Regions from separate parts of the Homo sapiens genome. Here all the other regions are reported to be linked to region 1. Evidence: microRNA targets listed by miRTarBase, many of them from high-throughput screens and not tested one by one. Region 1 holds a microRNA gene; each other region holds the end of a gene's coding sequence.
The links. The annotated mature microRNA hsa-miR-6790-3p reads CGACCUCGGCGACCCCUCACU and lies in region 1 at 1,226-1,246, opposite strand. An mRNA with a match to its seed (bases 2 to 7 or 8) in the 3' UTR can be bound and repressed. Matches are read on the target gene's strand: a 7mer-m8 pairs with bases 2 to 8, a 7mer-A1 pairs with bases 2 to 7 and ends in A, and an 8mer does both.

Region 1 (4,481 bases):
GCCTCAGCCTCCCAAAGTGCTGGGATTACAGGTGTGAACTACTGCACCCAACCCTTTGTCATCTATCTTTTCTTCACTTGGAGAAAAGTGAGAAAATTAAGACTTAGTGACTATGACAGTTAAGCAACTATCACAACCACCAAGGTCAGGGTCAAGTTCTCTCACCACCCCAGCCCCTGACCCCCAGGACTCAGAGACTTACCTGATTCCACGTAGCAAAGTTGACTTTGTCGGCTGCATTAAAAGCCATGATGTTATATTTTTTGGTTGTATTCCTGGAGTGGATGAGAAGAGGTAGTGTCAATCCAATACAGCAATTCAATCATTAATTTAATCAGTCAATGCTATTGAACCATTAATTCAATCAACCACCCAACTGGATCGTTAATTCAATCAAATCATTACTTTAATTCAATCACTCAATTCAATTGAACCATTAATTCAATTCAATCATTCCATTCAATTGAATCATTAATTCAATTCAATTCACTCAACAAACCCACCCAGCTTCATTCAGCCTGTTTTGCCTGGCAACACTGGATACGGAAGACTCCAAGGATTCCCAGTCTGCCAGAGAAGCTAGACCCATCCTCTCCTGACCCCAGGCAGAAGAAGAGCAGATGGAGGGACGAAGATTTGGGGGAACCCAAGATGTGGAGATTATTGTGAACTCAGCCTTGGGGAGGAGGGAGGACAGGCAGGGAGTATTTCCTGGAGGAGGAAGATACTGGAGTTGAGTTTTGCAGAATCATCAAGAATTCACCCAGCAGAGTCACAGTTTAGGGGTTGAGGGGAGGCACTCATGGCAGAGGAACAGGATGTACAAAGGCCTGGAAAGGAAAGACAGCCTGACCACTTTGAAACAGGACGAGGAATATGTCCTTACAGCTGGCCTGGGCATCATGGGACCATATACTCCTCGAAGGTTAGGCCAGGGGGCTGGATCACCGTGTATTAATGCACTCATTCATTCATTCGTTCAAAAAAGCAGTGTTGTCCCCAGAGAAGCCTCAGCTTAATCCCAGCCCTGCCCTCCAAGTCTCTCCCGGTCTGGAGGGAGAACCACAGACAGGGCCAGAAATGGCTGGCTAAGAAGATCGTGAAGGTTTTCATTTTTGGGGGGTGGAGAGGAGTGGGAGATGGGGCTGGGGACTTACTTAGGAACTCGAACGACGTATTCAGTGACATTCTGGCTGCTAGGGCCCTGCGGAAAGAGGAAGCGGTGAGTGAGGGGTCGCCGAGGTCGCCGTCGGAACCCCCGAACCCCGCCAAATCCACACTCACTAGGGCCGCCATGGGCAATGGTCAGTGGTTCCGATCTGGTCCGACCCGGGTTCCTTTCGTCTCCTCTGGCGTGCGCGTCCCTCGATCCCGGGGAAGCCGCCGCTCGGTGTCGGGTCTCTGTGCCTGAGCGAGGACCCCAACCCTAGGCGCCTCTGGCGCTGGGAAAAGGTAACCGGAAGAGGCGCTCAAGCTACTCGGTCTACGCTTCTGCGGCCGCCTAACCCGGAAGCGAAACCCTCGAGCAGCCGCGTCGCGATGGCAACCTTCTTAGCGACTGTGGCCACCTCAGTGCGCAGTCACTTATGCTCCTCGGCGGCTATGGTCACCTCAAAAGGTCCACCGCGGTCCCTTTTTAGACTCAGCAAACCTAGGCCGAGTCTGAGATAAACTAACGGGCCTCTGTCGCTGGCGCTCTTGTATATAACGCGGTTAACTTCATCAAATGGGGGACCGCCCTCTCTCGTGACGTCAGCACCCAAGGACCGTGGGGCATCCTGGGTGGGAAGAGGGAGACGAATCCCCCTTGCGGGCTCCCAGGCACTTTGCGCATGCGCCTTGCCGCTCTGGACCTGGGGGGCCCAGAAGGCCGCGTCACCATAGCAACCGAGGCCTACTCGGGTCGGGTCGAACCGCCGCTTGGCTCCCCATGGGTCTGTTTGGGGTTCATTTCCTCCCCCTACCCCGAAGGGGTGGACCCCGTCATTCCCGCAAAATGACCGGGGCGGGGACCCTTGTGACGTTGAGCCGAGCCAGGAGGGGTCAGAGCCTGGGCGGGGTCGGGGCGCGACCACCCCAAGAGCTGCTGGCCGGATGGGTCTTTGCAAGTCCAAGCTGCCCGAGATGGGCAGGGCTCTGAGGCCCCAGGAGAAGGGTAACGTCGCGGGGGCGGCTGGCTGGCTTCCTGGGGGGAAGGGAAGGAAGCTGCCGAGAACAGGAGGGAGATGCAGGATCCCCTACCCCGTTCCAGGCATGCACACATCCCCCGAATCATGGCAGTAACACAACTGCGCATGCTCACGGCGCAACCATTCATTGCTCCACTTCGCAAATACTCCAGCACCTCCTGGGTTCGGGGCCCCGCAAGGTGAATCTGTCAAACCAGCTCCCCACGGAGGATTACAGTGTCCTCTCGAGGGTTACAGTGTCGTGGAAGAGACAGAGTCACAGCATGGGAATCTACAACCCAGGAAGGAGCAGGAGAAGCACAGCGGGGCTCTGAGGGCTCAGAGAAGAGGGGAGGTTTCAGTTGGGCACTGAGGGATGCATAGGAGTTGGCTAAGCAAAGGGAAGGCGGGCAAGACACAAAAGTTGGGCCATGAACTACAGACACCGTCGATGTGTCTGTTTTCATTTATTTCTCATCCACCACTAAATGTCAGGAACCGCCAACCCCTAGGAATATAGGAATGAGGGAGGCAGAAATAGTCCTTGCCCTCATGGAGTGTCTGGCTTGGGGGAGACAAGAACGAGTAAACGGCTGGGCACGGTGGCTCATGCCTGTAATCCCAGCACTTTGGGAGGCCGAGGCGGGCGGATCACCTGAGGTTGAGAGTTCGAGACCAGCCTGACCAACGTGGAGAAACCCCGTCTCTACTAAAAATACAAGATTAGCCGGGCGTGGTAGCACATGCCTGTAATCCCAGCTACTCGGGAGGCTGAGACAGGAGAATCGCTTGAACCTGGGAGGCAGAGGTTGTGGTGAGCCGAGATCGCGCCATTGCCCTCCAGTCTGGGCAACAAGAGCGAAACTCCGTCTCAAAAAAAAAAAAAAAAAAAAAAGAAGGAAAAGAAGGAAAAAAAAAGAACGAGTAAACAGAGAAGATCATGACAGACTGTGGCCATTGCTGTGGAGGAAATAGGTGTCTCAGACAAGGAGTGATGGGGGGAAGCTCTAGATGGAGGCTAGAGAAGGCCAGATGGAAGTTGTGGCCAGAAGGAACTGGGGCAGGCAGGGATTTTCCAAGCAGAGGAAACAGCAAGGGAGAAGTGAGTTTCAAATTCAAAGAACTGAAGCCCCCTGGGGCTGGGACAAAGAGAAGGGGAGTATGGGTTGGGGCTGGGACAGAGGGAAGGGGAGTAGGATATGGGGCTGGAACAGAGAGAAGGGGAGTATGGGATGAGACTGGGAGCGTGGGCAAGTCCCTGCCTCTCACTGAACCTCGGTTCCCTCCACTGTAAAATGGGATGATAGAGTCCTCAGGATGCTTTAAGGAGATGCCGTGTGTGAAGGGCCTGGCCTGCTCAAGTTCACGTCTTTGTTTTTTTTTATTTTATTTTTTTGAGACGGAGTCTCGCTCTGTCGCCCAGGCTAGAGTGCAGTGGCACGATCTCGGCTCACTGCAAGCTCTGCCTCCCGGGTTCACGCCATTCTCCTTCCTCAGCCTCCCAAGTAGCTAGGCCTACAGGTGCCCATCACCACGCCCAGCTAATTTTTTGTATTTTTAATAGAGACAGGTTTTCACCGTGTTACCCAAGATGGTCTCGATCTCCTGACCTGAAGTGATCTGCCCACCTCGGCCTCCCAAAGTGCTAGGATTACAGTGCTAGGCATGAGCCCACCGCACCTGGCCACATCATTTTTTTTTTTAAATGGAGTCTTGCTTTGTTGCCCAGTCTGGAGTGCAGTGGCACAATCTCGGCTCACTGCAACCTTTGGCTCCTGGGTTCAAGCGATTCTCCTGCTTCAGCCTCACGAATAGGTGTGCACCACCACACCCAGCTAATTTTTTTTGTATTTTTAGTAGTGATGGGGTTTCACCCTGTTGGCCAGGCTGGTCTCAAACTCCTGACATCAAGGGATCCACCCGCCTCGGCCTCCCAAAGTGCAGGGATTATAGGCGTGAGCCACCACACCTGGCCTCAAGTTCACATCTTCATCCAAAGCGGCACAAACACACAACGTGCCTGGCTATGCCCTTGAGAACAGAACCATACCCCTAAGAGGCCGGGCGCGGTGGCTCACGCCTGTAATCCCAGCACTTTGGGAGGCCGAGGCGGGCAGATCATGAGGTCAGGAGATCGAGACCATCCTGGCTAACATGGTGAAACCCCGTCTCTGCTAAAAACACAAAGAAAATTAGCCGGGCGCGGTGGCGGGTGCCTGTAGTCCCAGCTACTCAGGAGGCTGAGGCAGGAGAATGGCATGAACCCGGGAGGCGGAGCTTGCAGTGAGCCGAGATAGCGCCATTGCACTCCAG
Region 2 (4,000 bases), not on the chromosome of region 1:
TGTACAAAGAATGTATTTCCTATGCATTGACTAGGGAATCCCCCCAACTCATAAATTATAAAAATGACACTTCCAAGCCATCAATGAAGGAAGTGTCATCATTAAAGTGGTAGTGCAATATAACAAAGTGTTTACAAACAAAACACCATCCAACATACCCCCAAATGCTCCTTTTTGGTTGTTATACAGTTTGAAAAAAGCCTACAGTTAGCTATCAATTCCTTACAGCAATGAAGTACTAAGCTAAACAATGCATTCAGAAATTTCTTAGGCCAAATCCTGACAGTATACCAACTACGAGTTGGTAAACACTGTTTTTAATCCTGCTGAAGAAGAGAAACGCGAACACCAAGTAAAACTTACTATAAACTACAAATATTTCAATATTTACACTCAATATGAGTTCGACACAGTAGTATAAACTGAAGGTCAACAGGCTCAAGAATTTATCTGAAGCACCAGGAGACAGTAATATATGTAGTTTAGAACTACAATTCAAAAAGTAAACACAAATACATTTATCAGGTCAAATAGCATCACACACACACGTACAACTCACTCATTCATCTCTCACACTTTTTCTATTCACAGGATATAAGCACTATCAAAAACAAAACAAAAAACACTTTCAATAAACACTTAAATCTTTGAAAAATCTAAATTTGGATATGCTAAACAAAGAAACAAACTACCTATTTTAGACTGCAGCCTAGGAGAGGTTCTTTAAATATTTACTTATTCTAACCTGAGACAACTTTCCTTCTGAAAATAAATTGCACTTCCCCCAAAGATATTTGTATTTAAAATTTAAGACCTATCCTGAGCCACCAATTCCAACACACACCTGGTAAAAGTGCCTTATCAAGAAAGAAGTATCAAAAAGTTATCAAGAAATGATGTTTCAAGGCATAAGTGGAATGTTAAAACACAAACCTGCATGAAATGAGTCAACATTTATTTTACAATACTGAAATAACTGTAATTTACAAAAGAGTCATGATTAATGTTGGAGCATAGTAAAATTAAATACATCCCTATACTTCAACACAATATTTTAATATTTATATATAGTAAAATAACAGTTTGGCACTTAGCAGCTTTGTTGGTTATTGCATCCCATATTATGTGGCAAATTTATTTTATAAAACATTATCTAATTTCTGCAGTTATAGAGTCAATGAACTGAAATTAAAAAAAAAAAACACTATTTTTATAAAATGAATTTACCAAGTCATGCAGGTACTGATAATATTGCAAGAGGAACACATTCACTCCTAAATAATGAACTGTCTCCTTGGAGAGGCCTGGTGTAGACTGGAAAAAAAACTTTAAATATCAGAAATTAAAAAAGGAGAATTGCTGACGATCGTGGCTTTAACTGGATGTCAGTTACTGTTTTAATGTTCCCCAATTACAGCTGCTGAATGCCAAGGTACTGTTCTGTACAGGACATTTCACCAAAGCAAATTTAGTTTTTCAGCTATTTCCTTCCTCTAAAACTAATATCTAGTTGTAAAAAGAAAAATCTTCCTTTCTTTGCAGAGGCCACATAGTTTGCTTTCATTAAAAAGATCTCCACACTGTCACTACGAAAATGTGCAGACAACAGCTGACTGGTACACAAAACAATTCTGAATTTGGTTTTGACTGACATATTAAACATGATTGAATTACATGACTGTGCGGCACATCTGGCCTGGTGCCTCTGGCATATAAGATAAAAACCTTACACCTTCTCTTATCAGGTATCTTCTGGCTAAAATGGAGAGTTAATGTACCACACTCAACACTCTCTAGAACCCCATAGGCACAGCATCTTTCAGCAACTTTTGACGCATTGTACTGACTTCCAGCAGGTATAAGAAAAAAAATCACAGGTCACCCTTTTTTATGTCTATGGGTGGGAGAACGTAAGTGATGTTTTTCATATGCATGTTAATTGCATATAAACGTTCCATACAGGAAGTTTCTAGAAGAAATTCCTGTTCTCGACTTAAAACCAAAGGATACCTTTATACATGTGTTAATAAGACAAAATGCTGCTTCTTACAGCCATATTCCAAAAGGAAAAAAAAAACCTTTTTTTTAGAAAACAATTAAAAATGAAGTACTGTATATTAAATTGATTAGAAATTTGACATTGCATAAAATTCAATTTAGGAAGGAATCAAGCACTTTGAAGTCCCCGATTTCACACTAGGGTGGTGTAATTCAAGTGGAAAACAAAATATCTTACAAGATACGTTCCACGAACGAAAGACATTTTTCCCCCAATGAGAAGTGGGGTAAAGTGGGTTGAGGTGAGAATGAGAGATAGGAAAGGAGGGAAGGAGGAAAAGATTAATTTGCTCTACTATGAACAGAATGAAATTAAGTTGAGGTAGTTTATTCTACCAGCCAAACTTTACTCGTAACATAATTTGTCTAAAACTCTCACTAGTGAATGCCACTGGGAAACTTCTATTACAAAGACTAGATTCTTAACACAGATTCGCATTCTAAGACAAGTTTTCAAACCCTAAACAGTAGTAAACAAGACTTTGTGTGCTTTCAGACAGGTTATATGAAAAAGTTTCTGATCCCTATGTATTTTGTCTGGATAGCTTTTTTGTTTTTGCTTTTTTAGCCACAGCAGACCTTTATTATTTGTCTGACTCAGGTCTTTCTTTTATAAAATCTCCTACTCACTAATATCCTCATACTTAGAAAATGGTTTTGCTCATTGAGAAGGCAGAATGGCACTGCAGGAGACCCTTCCCGGCTCCACAGGTACTACCCCAGAAAGGATGCGTGACGTGTCTTGATCTAAGTCAACACAGAAGCGAGCAACTTCTTTCAGTTCACATGAGGGCTGCAACCTGACTCATCAATTTACTGAATCTTTACATTACTAAGATAAAGTTACAAAAGAGCAATTTTATCTTCATTTCAATTCATCATGATATAGTTTTAAAAAGATTCTTAGGACAGAGTACTAGGAATAAATGGAGACTAACTGGCATACAGTCCAATCTAACATTTTAGGCACAAACCTTAATTTGTTGGGCAGGGTTAGGCATAATATATCCTTCCAAGTGCAGTGGAAAAGCAGTCTTGGCATGTTTGGATATGTTGATTTGCATATACGGATTTTGTTTGTTACCAAAGCTACGTATTTGAATACAGCAGTCAGACATGAGTTCCCTTCAGGGAAAATGCACCTTAGTATTTTAACTTTGATATTTTACATGATAGCAATTCCCACTCCCTTTTCCTTTTGATATTTACTAGCCTCCCTAGCCTCCAACATCTACAGCCACATTTAACTGGAGGAACTCACTCCTCCCAGGTAGTTTTTCAACAGTTACGTGTTCTCCCAAACAAGAGCTAAAGCTCAAGTTTGTAAGCATCATAAAACCACCAAAGAGTTACCATACCAAAGCCCAGCACAGAGTGAGTTTCAGCTGCCATCTCTGCTCTCCCTTTCGGAGCTATGTTATGGTGCTCTTGGGTCAGGATCTCGCACTCTGCTCTGCTTCCTCCTCAAGGGGAATGAACACGAATACGGAATAAGCCTTGCTGAAGCTGCAGGCGGAAAAGCTTGCAATTCGCAATGCGTAAGGCTGCACATCCTGTACGGCGAAGGTCGGATGGAAGGAGTGGTTTAGTGTGGTGCCAGGTTCCTGTGCTTCTTTTAAACTCACGCACGTAGTCGTAATTGGTACCTAAGCCACAGAAATAAGCAAGGGTGAGAAAATGTACCCAGAATCACCAGGAAACAGTTCCAAGAAAATCACTGTAACACTCTTACCTGTATCAAGATCTCCAATAACATAAATACTGGCTCCTATAGGTACAGCTCCATAAACAAAAGAGGAACTGGCGGGGATGCATAAATTCTGGTCGTTAAGATAGATCCACCTGAAAACAAAGCCCATGCACAAAATTAAGGAAATCAAAAGGATGACAACAACATCTAGGAAGACTGACACAGCAAGCTTGGTGAGTCATCAGCAGTATC
Region 3 (4,000 bases), not on the chromosome of region 1:
CTTTCTTCATCTGTAAGTGGGCACATTCCTGCCTCACGGGGTTTATCTGGTGAGGAAAGATTTGTATTATCTTTGGCATGAACTCAGTTGCTTGAAAAATGAAGCCCATAGAAGAAGCTAAGCCAGGGTGTCTGTCTTCAGAGCAGCACCTTGCCGCTTGCCAGTACAGCAGTGCCCTCACCTCTGGGGCTGAGCTGTTTGATTCATGCTGTGTGCCCTGGGAGGCAGCCTATCTCCATCTCTTGTAGCCTTGTCATGGCCACCCCTTTTTCCACGCTACAGCAGAAGGTTCAGGAAGCTTGAAATCAGCCCACACAAGCCCAGGCCCAACCTCTCTTCCATTGGCTGCTGCCCTTGCTGCCTCCTGGTACCCCCAGGCTCAGAGAAAGCAGAGCAGCCTGCCTGAGGAGGGCATGTGGTAGGGCTGGGGCCAGGCGCTGTTAGGTGCTGGGCAGTGGACACAGGGCTGACGCTCTGCATGTGACCAGGCGCTTTCCTAGGATGGGGGTGGGGGAAGGGGACAACCAAGGTTCTGCTCACCCTCTCCTCTAAATGAATTTTTATTGTTGTTTTTTTTTTTTTGGTCAGTTATGAGGAGTCAAATCCTAAGGATCCAGCGGCAGTGACAGAATCCAAAGAGGGAACAGAGGCATCAGCATCGAAGGGGCTGGAGAAGAAAGAGAAATGATGCAGCTGGTGCCCGAGCCTCTCAGGGCCAGACCAGACAGATGGGGGCTGGGCCCACACAGGCGTGCACCGGTAGAGGGCACAGGAGGCCAAGGGCAGCTCCAGGACAGGGCAGGGGGCAGCAGGATACCTCCAGCCAGGCCTCTGTGGCCTCTGTTTCCTTCTCCCTTTCTTGGCCCTCCTCTGCTCCTCCCCACACCCTGCAGGCAAAAGAAACCCCCAGCTTCCCCCCTCCCCGGGAGCCAGGTGGGAAAAGTGGGTGTGATTTTTAGATTTTGTATTGTGGACTGATTTTGCCTCACATTAAAAACTCATCCCATGGCCAGGGCGGGCCACTGTGCTCCTGGAAGATTCTCTGTTTAAGCACCCAGTGTCTTGCCCTGGGTTTTCTAGGTCTCACCTGCCCACCCAAAATCTTTTCTGCAAGCCCCTTAAGGGTGCCCACCCCAGTGCCTGGCCAGCCCTGCACCCGTAAAACACCTTTTAGCCAGTAGAGGGGGCCCACGAGCCCTCTCTCACCAGCTAGCACTTTTCTCACCACCTTCCTCGAAATACTTGGGGGCAGCAAGGGTGTTGGCAGATGAGAGTCTCCCACTCACCATGGTGAGAGTGGTGGGGAGTACCCAGGGCTGACCTGACTCACAAGGGAAGCAGTAACTGTAGAACCTGCCAGCCTCCCTGGTCCCTGTGCCCATATGGCTTCGGCTGATGAGGGCTCAGACTCTAGGTTGCCCTGAAGATCAAGGCTTTGTCTCCCATTCTGCCCATTCCTGGGTTTCTTCCCAAAATGACTACTGTGGGGCCAGTCATGGCACAAGGGCCAGGACCTCTAGAGGCTGGGGTGGGGAAGGACTGAGCTAGTGATTCTTAGAGGCCTTCTGGGGCCTAAGAGCTGAAATCTCAGCGCCCGGGTTTCCCTAAAGTTTGCTGAAGACAGCAGCCCCGGCCAGCAGGAGACCGACCGGGCACCACCCCAAACCAGGCAAACGGTGGCCACAACCCTCATCCACCCACCTGGTATGAGGTCACTGAGTGGGGAAACAGACAGGAGCGGGTGGCCACCATACTGACAGACCCGGGGCTCTCCCTTGCCCAAGCTTCAGGTTCAAAGGCTGAAAATAACAGTGGCTTCCAGTTTGGAAGTGGCCAAAGGACAATCATGACCAGAGACTCAGGAGTATGACTGTAATACCCTCACTAGGTATTGACATGCACTAAGCACCTTGATATAGGATTTCACTTCCTTCTGAGTCTTGGGCTGTATGTGCTATTATTCGCTCCGCTGTGCAGATGAGGGAATTGAGGCAGCTTGCCCATGGACATCGATTTGACCTTAGCCAAGCCAAACAATTCCAGGTTCCTAAGGACCGCAGCTCCTCCCCAGACCCCTGGGACCAAGTCACTGGCTGGTGTGCTGGGCATCCCTGAGCCCCAGCCACCCAATTTTACTGGCTCCAGGGTTCTATAGGAAGGAAAAGGGGTAGAAAATTTCAAAAGGCTTCTTCCTTTCAGGGAGGGGGGTTCCCTTTCAGGGGCTTCTGGAATCTCTACCCACTCCAGCCAACTCTGAGGCCATGTGGTCCTGGAACAAGGCCCCTCTGAGGCAGATGGGGCAGGCGGCCCAGGCACATAGCATGGTTGGCTCTGCGGCCCAGGGCGCACAAAGGCCTTATTGAGTCACCACCAGCCCCCGGCAGAGGCTGAGGTGGCAGTGGCGCCGAGCGCCTGCCACCTAATGACTGTCCTGGTCCAGCCAGATGTTCCACAGACCTCCGGAGCAGCGGACTAGGGCCCGCCCGGCCAGCCGGCACCGCAGAGGCCACTGTAATTCCAATTAACCAGCTTCAGCTGAGCAAACAGCGGGCAGTGGTGGCCCAGCCCAGGCGGTAGGCCTGGCCCGCAGAGCCTGCGAGTCTAGACTCCAGATGTGAACCGCCACCATCAGAGTCCCATGGAAAAATGGCACCAGGCCGGGCAAGGATTGGGCCTGCATGCTGGGGAGGGGGTGTGGGTGGTTGGGCAGGGCCCCGAGTGGGCTAGATGCCAGCCTCACCTGGTTTGGGGTGGATTATTAGGAAACTGCTCTAGAACCCAAGTTCTACCCTGCTTTATTAGATTCTGTTTCTGTGCCTCAGTCTCCCATGACTGCGACAAGAGAGAGGGTTCCAAGGGGAAAACCAGCCCTGCTGAGACCCCAGTGTGCACTGACTGTATTTCACGTGACTAGCATTATGCTAGTGCAACTGACCCTTGAACAACACAGGGATTAGGGGCACCAACCCATCATGGTCGAAAATCTGTATAACTTTTCAGTCCCGCAAAACAACTAATAGTCTGCTGTTGACCAGAAGCCTTACCTGATAACATAAACAGTCAAAACATCTTGTATGTTATACGTACTACACTGTCTACCATAGAGTAAGCTAGAGAAAATGTAATTAAGAAAATCCTAAGAGCCAGGCATGGTGGCTCATGCCTGTAATCCCAGCATTTTGGGAGGCCAAGATGGGCAGATCAGGAGGTCAGGAGATCGAGACCATCCTGGCTAACATGGTGAAACCCCCGTTTCTACTAAAAATACAAAAAATTAGCCGGGCATGATGGCAGGCGCCTGTAGTCTCAGCTACTCGGGAGGCTGAGGCAGGAGAATGGCCTGAACCCGGGAGGCAGAGCTTGCAGTAAGCCGAGAGAGGCAGGCGGATCACAAAGTCAGGAGTTCGAGACCAGCCTGGCCAATATGGTGAAACCCCGACTCTACTAAAAATACAAAAATTAGCCTGGCATGGTGGCAGGCGACTGTAGTCCCAGCTACTCAGGAGGCTGAGGTGGGAGAATCACTTGAACCCAAGAGGCGGAGGTTGCAGTGAGCCAAGATTGCACCACCGCACTCCAGCCTGGGGGACAGAGTGAGACTCCGTCTCAAAAAAAAAAAAATTATTCAGTGAAAGTGGATCATCATAAATAAAGATCTTCATCCTGGTCTCTGTGTTGAGGAAGAGGAGGGGGTTGGTCTTGGTGTCTCAGGGGTGGCAGAGGTAGAAAAAAAGTCCACGTTTAAGTGCACCTGCACAATTGAAACCCGTGTTCAAGTTTCAAATGTATCTTAAGATTTACTTAATCGTTGTAACAACACTTTGAGGTACCTACATCATTCTTACGATGGGGAAACTGAGGCAGAGACCGTAAGGGCGGGCCCAGGGGGCATGTGAACCCAGAGTGTCTGGCTTCCAAGACTCGTATTCACCGTGGTGCCGTTTGACATGATCAGGATAATGGATCCCTGGTTCCTTTTGGGGGCAGCATTGGAGAAGGG
Region 4 (4,000 bases), not on the chromosome of region 1:
CACCCTCCACTGTCTGCTGGTGGAGGCAGCCATCAGCACAGTCATGCCAGCTAGCATGATCCTGAGATTCAGAAACAAACTTCAAAACCAGCATGCAGGCCGGGCGCGGTGGCTCATGGCTGTAATCCCAGCACTTTGGGAGGCCGAGGCGGGCGGATCCCCTGAGCTCAGGATTTTGAGGCCAGCCTGACCAATATGATGAAACCCCGTCTCTACTAAAAATACAAAAATTAGCCGGGCATGGTGGTGGGCACCTGTAATCCCAGCTACTTGGGAGGCTGAGATAGGAGGATCACTTGAACCTAGGAGGCAGAGGTTGCAGTGAGCCGAGATCACGCCATTGCACTCCAGCCTGGGCAACAAGAGCAAAACTCTGTCTCAGAAACAAACAAACAAACAAACAAAACTCCAAAACAAAAAACAGCATGCACGCAGGGTCCCTATCCAAACAAGACAGACAGGAGGGGCGGCCCTTCGTTCAAACTCTCACCTGTTTTAGGCACAACTGCACTGTGGGGCCGAAGCGTGTGCTGCTGAGGGGATTAACACAGCCCGCTCGCTGAGCGCTTCAGTTCGCAGGCGGCGGAAACCTTTGCCAAGAGCACTAGCTGGCTCCCTCAGCAAACAGGACGGGATAAGGTTAGCTCGTTTATCCAACAAATATTTGCAGAGCCCCTACTTTGTACCTGAAACTGTGGACACAGCAACAAGGATCAGAAGAAAGTTTATTCTTGGCCCCAAGAAGCCTGAGGTCTAAAATGGATATAAACTTCAAGCGAAAATAACACAATGACATGTACAATGTCACTGAGAGGAGCTGGCGTTGTTGATTCCGGAACGCTGGCAGGTGCACCGTGAATCGGCAGGTAGCACATGATCCTCAGACCCCCGTGCTTGGCCGTTTGCCTCCGATAAGGGACGGTTTCCAGCAGTTTGTGCTGGCACACATGACCTCCTGCCCCGACACACTCCCGTAAATCCTGCCTATTGTGAGATCTCTCATTCCTCACATGAGCCACCCCATCAGGTGCACGGTGCACCGCTGAGAGGCAACGCAATGACAGAAGGTACCTGAGGACCTGGTTACCTGGCCAGGGCTGGCGGGCCACACACGGGGGCAGGGGCTTGCCCGCTGGTTGCTAGCTGGGGGCTGTTCTCTCATCCTGGGACAATGACGTGGATGCTGACACCTATAGGCAGACATCCCTGCAGCTGAGGAGAATCGAAAGGAAACCACGCCCGAGAAAAACCAATTTAATGCTTCTGTTCTCAGCATTTCACAGCATGCAGGACTCAAATGGATACAACAGAAGAAAAAAACCCACAATTTTTGGAAAAGCCTTTGTCCAATGATTAATATTTTGATATCTATTGACAATCCCTTAGAACTTTAAATCTCAAAAACAAAAAAGTACTGTGGATCTCCATAGTTTATACAGAATTATGTGAATTCTATAAACTTTTCTGAACAAAACAATTACATGTCAAGAATCCATGAAGCCTGGAAGATACGCTCACGTTTTTGAGGTTTGTATTAATGCCAGTTTTTATTGTATTAGACAAATGCTCTCTGAGAATCGAAGACTTCTAAAGGTAGACAGGCCCAGTTTCCCATTAGAGTTCTGGAAGCAGAGCCTGGGGAAGGTCTGTCACTTGCCCATCACTGGACCAGCCAGAAGCCAGCGGGGGCCAGGCGGGGTCTGCAGGCTGCAGGTCCCTTCCAGTCCTGTCCCTGCTGCCCTCTGTGACCATCTCTGCTAAGAAACATCGACAGTTCGTCCTGCAGCCTCCAAGCACACTAACCTCAGCCATCAGATGTTCCTGAAGCCCAGGGTAAGTCCTGTTCTCAGAAGCCAACCCAGCTGCTTGTCTGGGCCATGCTCTCTCACACCGCAGCTAGGTCATCTGCGGCGACTCTCCTCTGTGCTGGGCAGCAGCTCCAGCTGGTCCACGTCCTGCACAGTGCTGCAGGGGGGCAGCAAGGCACGCCTGTGACATGAGAGTCTCGGCACGTGAGGTAGGGTCAACAGTGATGTCCACAACTCAATACCAGCCCTCCACACCTCGGCAGCACTCGTGGGTCCTCCTCAACCAGGCGGACACGAGAAACAGATGATAACATGGTGCAAGGACAGACTTCAGCTCACCAATCAGATGAAGGTTTTGGGGTTGGGTTTTTTCAGACAACGATGTACATTTTAGCTTCCAAATGTGCACAGGGGCACAAAGGTCTGGATGCTGGGCACTACGGGTACCACAAGAGGATGGAAAGAACCAGCTCATTCGGTTTTATTGTATGTATGTATGTATTTATTTTGAGACAGAATCTCACTCTGTCGTCCAGGCTGGAGTGCAGTGGCGCGATCTCGACTCACTGTAACCTCCGTCTCCTGAGTTCAAGCGAATCTCCTGCCTCAGCCTCCTGAGTAGCTGGGATTACAGGCATGTGCCACCATGCCCGGCTAATTTTTGTATTTTTAGTAGAGACAGGGTTTCACCATGTTGGCCAGGCTGGTCTCAAACTCCTGACCTCAGGTGATCCACCTGCCTCGGCCTCCCAAAATGCTGGGATTACAGGTGTGAGCCACCACGCCCGGCCTTGATTTTAAAATCTATAATTCATCACTCATAAAATAAATGTTTTTCATGGAAAAATGTCTTTTTAAATGTAATTAAAATATATTTTAAAAAAACATACTTTATGAAGCTTCTCAGGCAGGTCAAATAATATTTAAGTAAGAGAGGCCCAGTGATATATAAACGGTGTGAGATAAACTCTGCTGGAATCGTGCCACGTGTGCCGTTGCTATGCAAAGCTACATGGGGATTGAGAACCATAAAATGATTTTCAGATGAATGTCTAGAGAAAATGAAAACAAAAATAGAGCTGGTAAATCTAGATATTTGGTAATTCAAAAAATATAAATCGTGAATTGCTGGCACCAATTTTAAAAAACATTAGACTCTACGACAAGATCCTCTCCCTTAGGGCACATTCTTAACAGCTTTGACGTGTATAAAAACGCAGCGCCCTGCAGAGGACACATGCCGTGTTGCCAGTGCCACCGCAACGTCATTCGGCGGGACGCTGCCGGACGCTGGTTCGCCTGACGCGCGAGCTACGCAGCATGCTCTGCGGTCCCACAGGCGGCGCTATGGCTCTACCTTAGTATTTTGTAAATATTAAAAAATCATGCAGAAATTTCCTAACGCAAAAGCTATGATGACAAATCTCCAAACATCCCAAAGCAGCCGTGTCCCGAGGAACTTCCTGCGGTGTCCACAAAGCAGCCGCTGGCTGTCCTCCGGCAGAATGGGATGGCGCCTCTGGTTTCATGGCTGGTCAAGAATGACTTCTGGAATCAGCGACAATGCACCCAGGAACTGACTGCAATCTCCTTGCAGGATACAAATCATTTCATAATCTTACTCCTGCTTAACTTGCTGCCTAGAAAAGGCTGCGTTTTCCACCTGTGACTACTGGCCGTGCATATTCTACAAAATCATCTATAAGAACGGGCCAAGCTCCTAAAGGAAAGCAAGCAAACAGAAAACCCGTTAGAGCACCGTTTTTATCTCCAAAGCACTGAGTCACACATCAATCCAACATTTACACTTCAAGAACCCAAATGACTTGAGGTCCACACCATTTGTGTTTCACAGAATGAACCAGCCCAAGTTACCCAGTTCTTTCGCCCTAGCACGGCCAGGTCGGGAGCCCTGGTGTGTGTGTGCTGGCATGTCTAGGGGGCTGTGGGCTCACAGTGGCCCCGGATGCTCGGTGAGTGCCCCAGGCAGTCACACCAGCTGCTCAGGAAGGGAGCTAAATGGACCCCCGCGGAGCAGGAGGCATGTTCCTCAGGTCATTGGTATTCTTGCCAGCAGGGGGTGCTCCCTCCTGCGGCTCTTCCCAAGTGGGACCACCCCATTGCTCCCTTCCCCACCCCGGCAGCCCTGAGTGCCCTCTGAGCTCCTGCACTGCTGCCTCAATCCTGGAAGC
Region 5 (4,000 bases), not on the chromosome of region 1:
ACTGCTTCAGAAATGAAAACGTTGACAGCAAAAGCTAACCCAGACTTTTTTGGAAAGATTTCCAGCTTCATCAGAAAATATGATGCTGCCAATGTGTCCTTAATTTTTGACAACAGAGGTTCTGAGAGTTTTCAGGGTCATGGTTATCACCACCCCCATTCCTACAGAGAGGCCCCCAAGGGTGTGGACCAGTATCCAGCTGTAGTGTCTCTGCCCAGCGACAGGCCAGTCATGCACTGGCCCAATGTCATCATGATCATGACGGACCGCACATCTGATCTGAACAGCTTGGAGAAAGTGGTCCACTTCTATGATGACAAAGTTCAGAGTACCTACTTCCTAACCCGCCCGGAACCTCACTTTACCATTGTCATCATTTTTGAGTCAAAGAAATCTGAGAGAGACTCCCACTTTATTTCCTTCCTCAATGAGGTCTCACTTGCCCTTAAGAACCCCAAAGTGTTTGCAAGTCTGAAACCTGGAGCCAAAGGTTAGCAGGTGATTTGCGTGGAGGGGTTTCAAGACTAGAAACTGTTCTTAATTGCCCTAATGATCTACGGTGGTCTGTGAATAGAGTTTACATCCATTCATGCCTCTTTCAGAACTAAATTAAAGACAAATCCTCCCTGTGTTGCACACTTTATAAGCAATTAAGGCCAATTGAATTAAGTTTCCAAAGAGTAATCTAGGAAGTGGTCATGGGCTACCATGTGTCTCCATGGTACAGCAAAGTAGTTTCAGTATTTTCCCCTATTTTGCTATATTTCTTGTAGATTGAATATTTATTGGGCTTTTTTTTTTCCCATATGTTTTTCTGTTGTTCTAAACATTGTGTTCTACTGCAATTCCAAACAGCCTCTCTGTTTCCCTCCTTCTTGGAAGAGTAATAGGGATGAGATATTAAATGGCCTTTTTAGAATTAAGAACTATATGTTTTCTGTCTCATAAATTAGCAAATGAATATGGAGTTAGTAGATTTATGATTCTGATCTACAAATTAACATTTTTGATGCCAAAATTAGGGTCTTGGTAAGAAATTTCTATCAGTTATTGAAACTGAAAGTGAGTCAGATTGGTAGCATGACGTAAGGTTTTAACAGTTCAGAAGATCCTCATGGCAGCTTTAATAGCCATGGGTTCTTTTGGGGTAATGTACACACCTAACTGCATTTGTTTTGACTTCTTTAATGTTTGAATGTTTCACTCTGTTGTAAAGTCAGCATAAGCCATCATGTGGGCTTTCTTCATTCTTCAGCATATTATCCGCTTCGCTTTCTGTTTATCACTTTTCTGCTGAAATGTACATGTTTGGCTCTACTCCTTGGTTATTTTTAGGCTTAAAAGCATGCAGTCGGTTTTTCAGCCACTTTTAGATACTCATGCAACATAGCCTACTTTTATAAAATCAAAATGAAGGTCTTCATACGCTGTACTTGCTAAAAATCAACTGTGCGCTTGAAAGACCTCTTCATAGTTGAGTAATCACCTCAGTACTTAAGCACTTCTGAACTTGGGTTTCATGCCTGCCCCCCACAAATTATGTTTAGAAGCAGCACTGCATCTTAGCACATGCTGCCTTATTTCTTTCCTTCGGCAGGTGTTCATGGGAAGTAGGTGGATCAGTGAAGGCATAATGGGCTGTGGAGACCTTCACTTCTAGATTATTGATTCAAAATAAAAAGAAGCCACAAAGAGTAATTGAGTTGTTACTGGTTTGATGGTTCCTTTGAAGCTTGTGTGAAATGTAATGGTCATATTCGTCTTTTTTCCCATGATTGTGTGGAGCCACTGTTTTACTGGGTGTCCACAGCAGGTATGCCAGCAACATCAGCAGAGACCAGAGAGCCCCTCAGAGTCCATGTAGGAAGCCTGCCCACCTAGGGTGGACTGCCTGGCAGAAGAAAGAAGAACCGGCCAGGCACGGTGGCACACGCCTGTAATCCCAGTACTTTGGGAGGCTGAGACGCGTGGATCACTTGAGGTCAGGAGTTCGAGATCAGCGTGGCCAACATGGTGAAACCCCATCTCTACTAAAAATACAAAAGTTGGCCGGTTGTAGTGACGGGTGACTGTAATCCCAGTTACTCTGGAGGCTGAGGCAGGAGAATTGCTTGAACCTGGGAGGTGGAGGATGCAGTGAGCTGAGACTGTGCAGCTGCACTCCAGCCTGGGTGAAAGAGCGAGACCTGTCTCAAAAAAAAAAAAAGAAGAAGAAGAACCAAGAATCTACTGGCCTATTTTTTATTTTCTGGGAAGAACATGTGTTTTTCCTTTTTTTTTTTTTTTTTTTTTGAGACAGGGTCTTGTCTGTTTTCCAGGCTGGAGTACAGTGGCACAATCACAACTCACTGCAGCCTCAACCTCCTGGGCTCAAGTGATCCTCCCACATCAGCATCCCGAGTAGGTGGGATTACAGGCATGAGCCATCACACCTGGGTCTCACTATGTTGCTCGGGCTGGACTCAAACTCCTGGACTCACATGAGCCTCCCGCCTCGGCCTCCCAAAGCACTGGGTTTATAAGCATGTGCCACTGCACCTGGCCTCCTTTCTTTTTCTTTAAAAATGGTCATAAGCTTTGTAAAAAGCTAGTTTGCTTTAAATAGAAAGTAGTGATTTACCTCTGCATTTTATTCACTCAGGTTCTATAAAAAAAGTCTCAGCAGATTTTACAACATTGACCTTACCTAAGAAATTGAAAGCAATTGGAGCTAAAAAGTCAAATCACTTTTCCTCTCTATTGTGTTCTGCCAAGAAACTGAAAAATATTCCTTGGTATGCATGTATTTTTTTCCTCTTAGATTAAACCACCATTAGCCTTAATGACACAGTCCCCCAAATACCTAGAAGAATATATACTTCAGTGGAACCCCGAGAGAGGTGTAAGTAAAGCATATATATGTTATTTAAATAACCAGTCCTCACCTAGAACATATTTGAATTGTATATCTATTTTTAAACATAAACACAAAAAGAATTTCAAAGAACAGAAGGCAGATGTGAATATTAAGAAAATCTAAGACAATATGTATTACTGTGCAGCTGTCATAGACTGTACTGGAAGAGTTTTTGAAGATTGAATATTGATACTTAAATTATTTCTGAAGCTCTTCAATAAAGTTTTCTAATTATAAAAACTCCACATAATTTGGTTCAAGCCAAGAAACAAAGTCATTTTACTCTAAGATTTATTCTCTAAATATAGTAATGAGATCTGTAAAGTCTGTGTTTTGCTAATTAAAAGAGTAAATCTGCGTATTTTCTGCAGACTGCTTTCTTTGAATCTGTTTCTAAACCACAACTTGATAAGTTTTTATGGGTAACTGGGAATATGGTCAACACTGAGTTTTCCAAGGGTTCCATCCAGGAGTATTTCATTTTAGGATGCTGTTTGGACACAGGGTTTGTAACTTTGTTCTCTCTGGGTCCTACCTGATCTCTGGCTGTGTCATTTCAGGGAGTGTGTGAAAATAAAGCCCAGTTCTTAACCAAGGAGCCAATACCCTTGATATAATTGCTTTGGATATTTGGACATATTGGGAGAAATGTGTCCAAATACTTTTCTTTTCTTTCTTTCTTTCTTTTTTTTTTTGAAAAGGCAAGGTCTGTCGCCCAGGCTGGAGTACAGTGGCATGATCATAGCTCTCTGCAGCTTTGAACTCCTAGGCTCAACAGTCCTCTTGCCTCAGCCTCCCGAGTAGCTAGGACCATGCCTGGCTAATTTTAAAAAAATATTTTAGAGATAGGGTCGCACTATGTTGCTCAGGCTGGTCTCGAAATCCTGGGCTCAAGTGATCCTCCCTCTTTAGCTTCCCAAGTGGGAATACAGGTGTGAGCCACTGTGTCCAGCAGAAAATGTACTTTCTAGAAAGAAAATAATTGGTACTTCACTACTTTCCCAGGGAATTCCTTCAGGTGAATGTCCACCCTTTTGATCTAGAAGCAGACTCACAATTTTGTTTGTTTGGCAAATCAGCCTCTGAGCTCAACTTCCTTGTCTG

Region 2: miRTarBase lists GAN as a target of hsa-miR-6790-3p. The part of its 3' UTR that is shown has no 7-base or 8-base seed match.
Region 3: the mRNA of HM13 is a reported target of hsa-miR-6790-3p. The part of its 3' UTR that is shown has no 7-base or 8-base seed match.
Region 4: the mRNA of DCUN1D2 is a reported target of hsa-miR-6790-3p. Seed matches in the 3' UTR shown: 7mer-A1 at 2,527-2,533.
Region 5: miRTarBase lists KICS2 as a target of hsa-miR-6790-3p. Seed matches in the 3' UTR shown: 7mer-A1 at 1,979-1,985.

The regions. Positions count from the first base shown.
Region 1 is chr19:6,391,700-6,396,180 of GRCh38, forward strand. MIR6790 (microRNA 6790) reads right to left here and starts at 1,284; the gene lies at 1,222-1,284. It overlaps GTF2F1 (general transcription factor IIF subunit 1), which reads right to left and starts at 1,465. Exons shown (of 13, transcript NM_002096.3): 1 at 1,285-1,465; 2 at 1,158-1,204; 3 at 203-275. The coding sequence starts at 1,296. It also overlaps the pseudogene LOC390877.
Region 2 is chr16:81,377,119-81,381,118 of GRCh38, reverse strand. GAN (gigaxonin) reads right to left here. Exons shown (of 11, transcript NM_022041.4): 10 at 3,791-3,900; 11 at 1-3,704. The coding sequence ends at 3,523. Among named protein-coding and RNA genes, the nearest start is that of MIR4720, 5.9 kb to the left of the region's middle.
Region 3 is chr20:31,568,532-31,572,531 of GRCh38, forward strand. HM13 (histocompatibility minor 13) reads left to right here. Exons shown (of 13, transcript NM_178581.3): 13 at 589-1,012. The coding sequence ends at 688. The region is part of intron 2 of HM13-AS1 (HM13 antisense RNA 1); the gene reads right to left. Among named protein-coding and RNA genes, the nearest start is that of HM13-AS1, 2.7 kb to the right of the region's middle. RefSeq lists a silencer at 1,075-1,369.
Region 4 is chr13:113,454,581-113,458,580 of GRCh38, forward strand. DCUN1D2 (defective in cullin neddylation 1 domain containing 2) reads right to left here. Exons shown (of 7, transcript NM_001014283.2): 7 at 1,239-3,528. The coding sequence ends at 3,449. Among named protein-coding and RNA genes, the nearest start is that of ADPRHL1, 3.1 kb to the left of the region's middle. RefSeq lists an enhancer at 1,438-2,368.
Region 5 is chr12:64,190,337-64,194,336 of GRCh38, reverse strand. It overlaps KICS2 (KICSTOR subunit 2), which reads left to right. Exons shown (of 3, transcript NM_152440.5): 3 at 1-3,257. The coding sequence ends at 495. Among named protein-coding and RNA genes, the nearest start is that of KICS2, 30 kb to the left of the region's middle. RefSeq lists an enhancer at 1-207.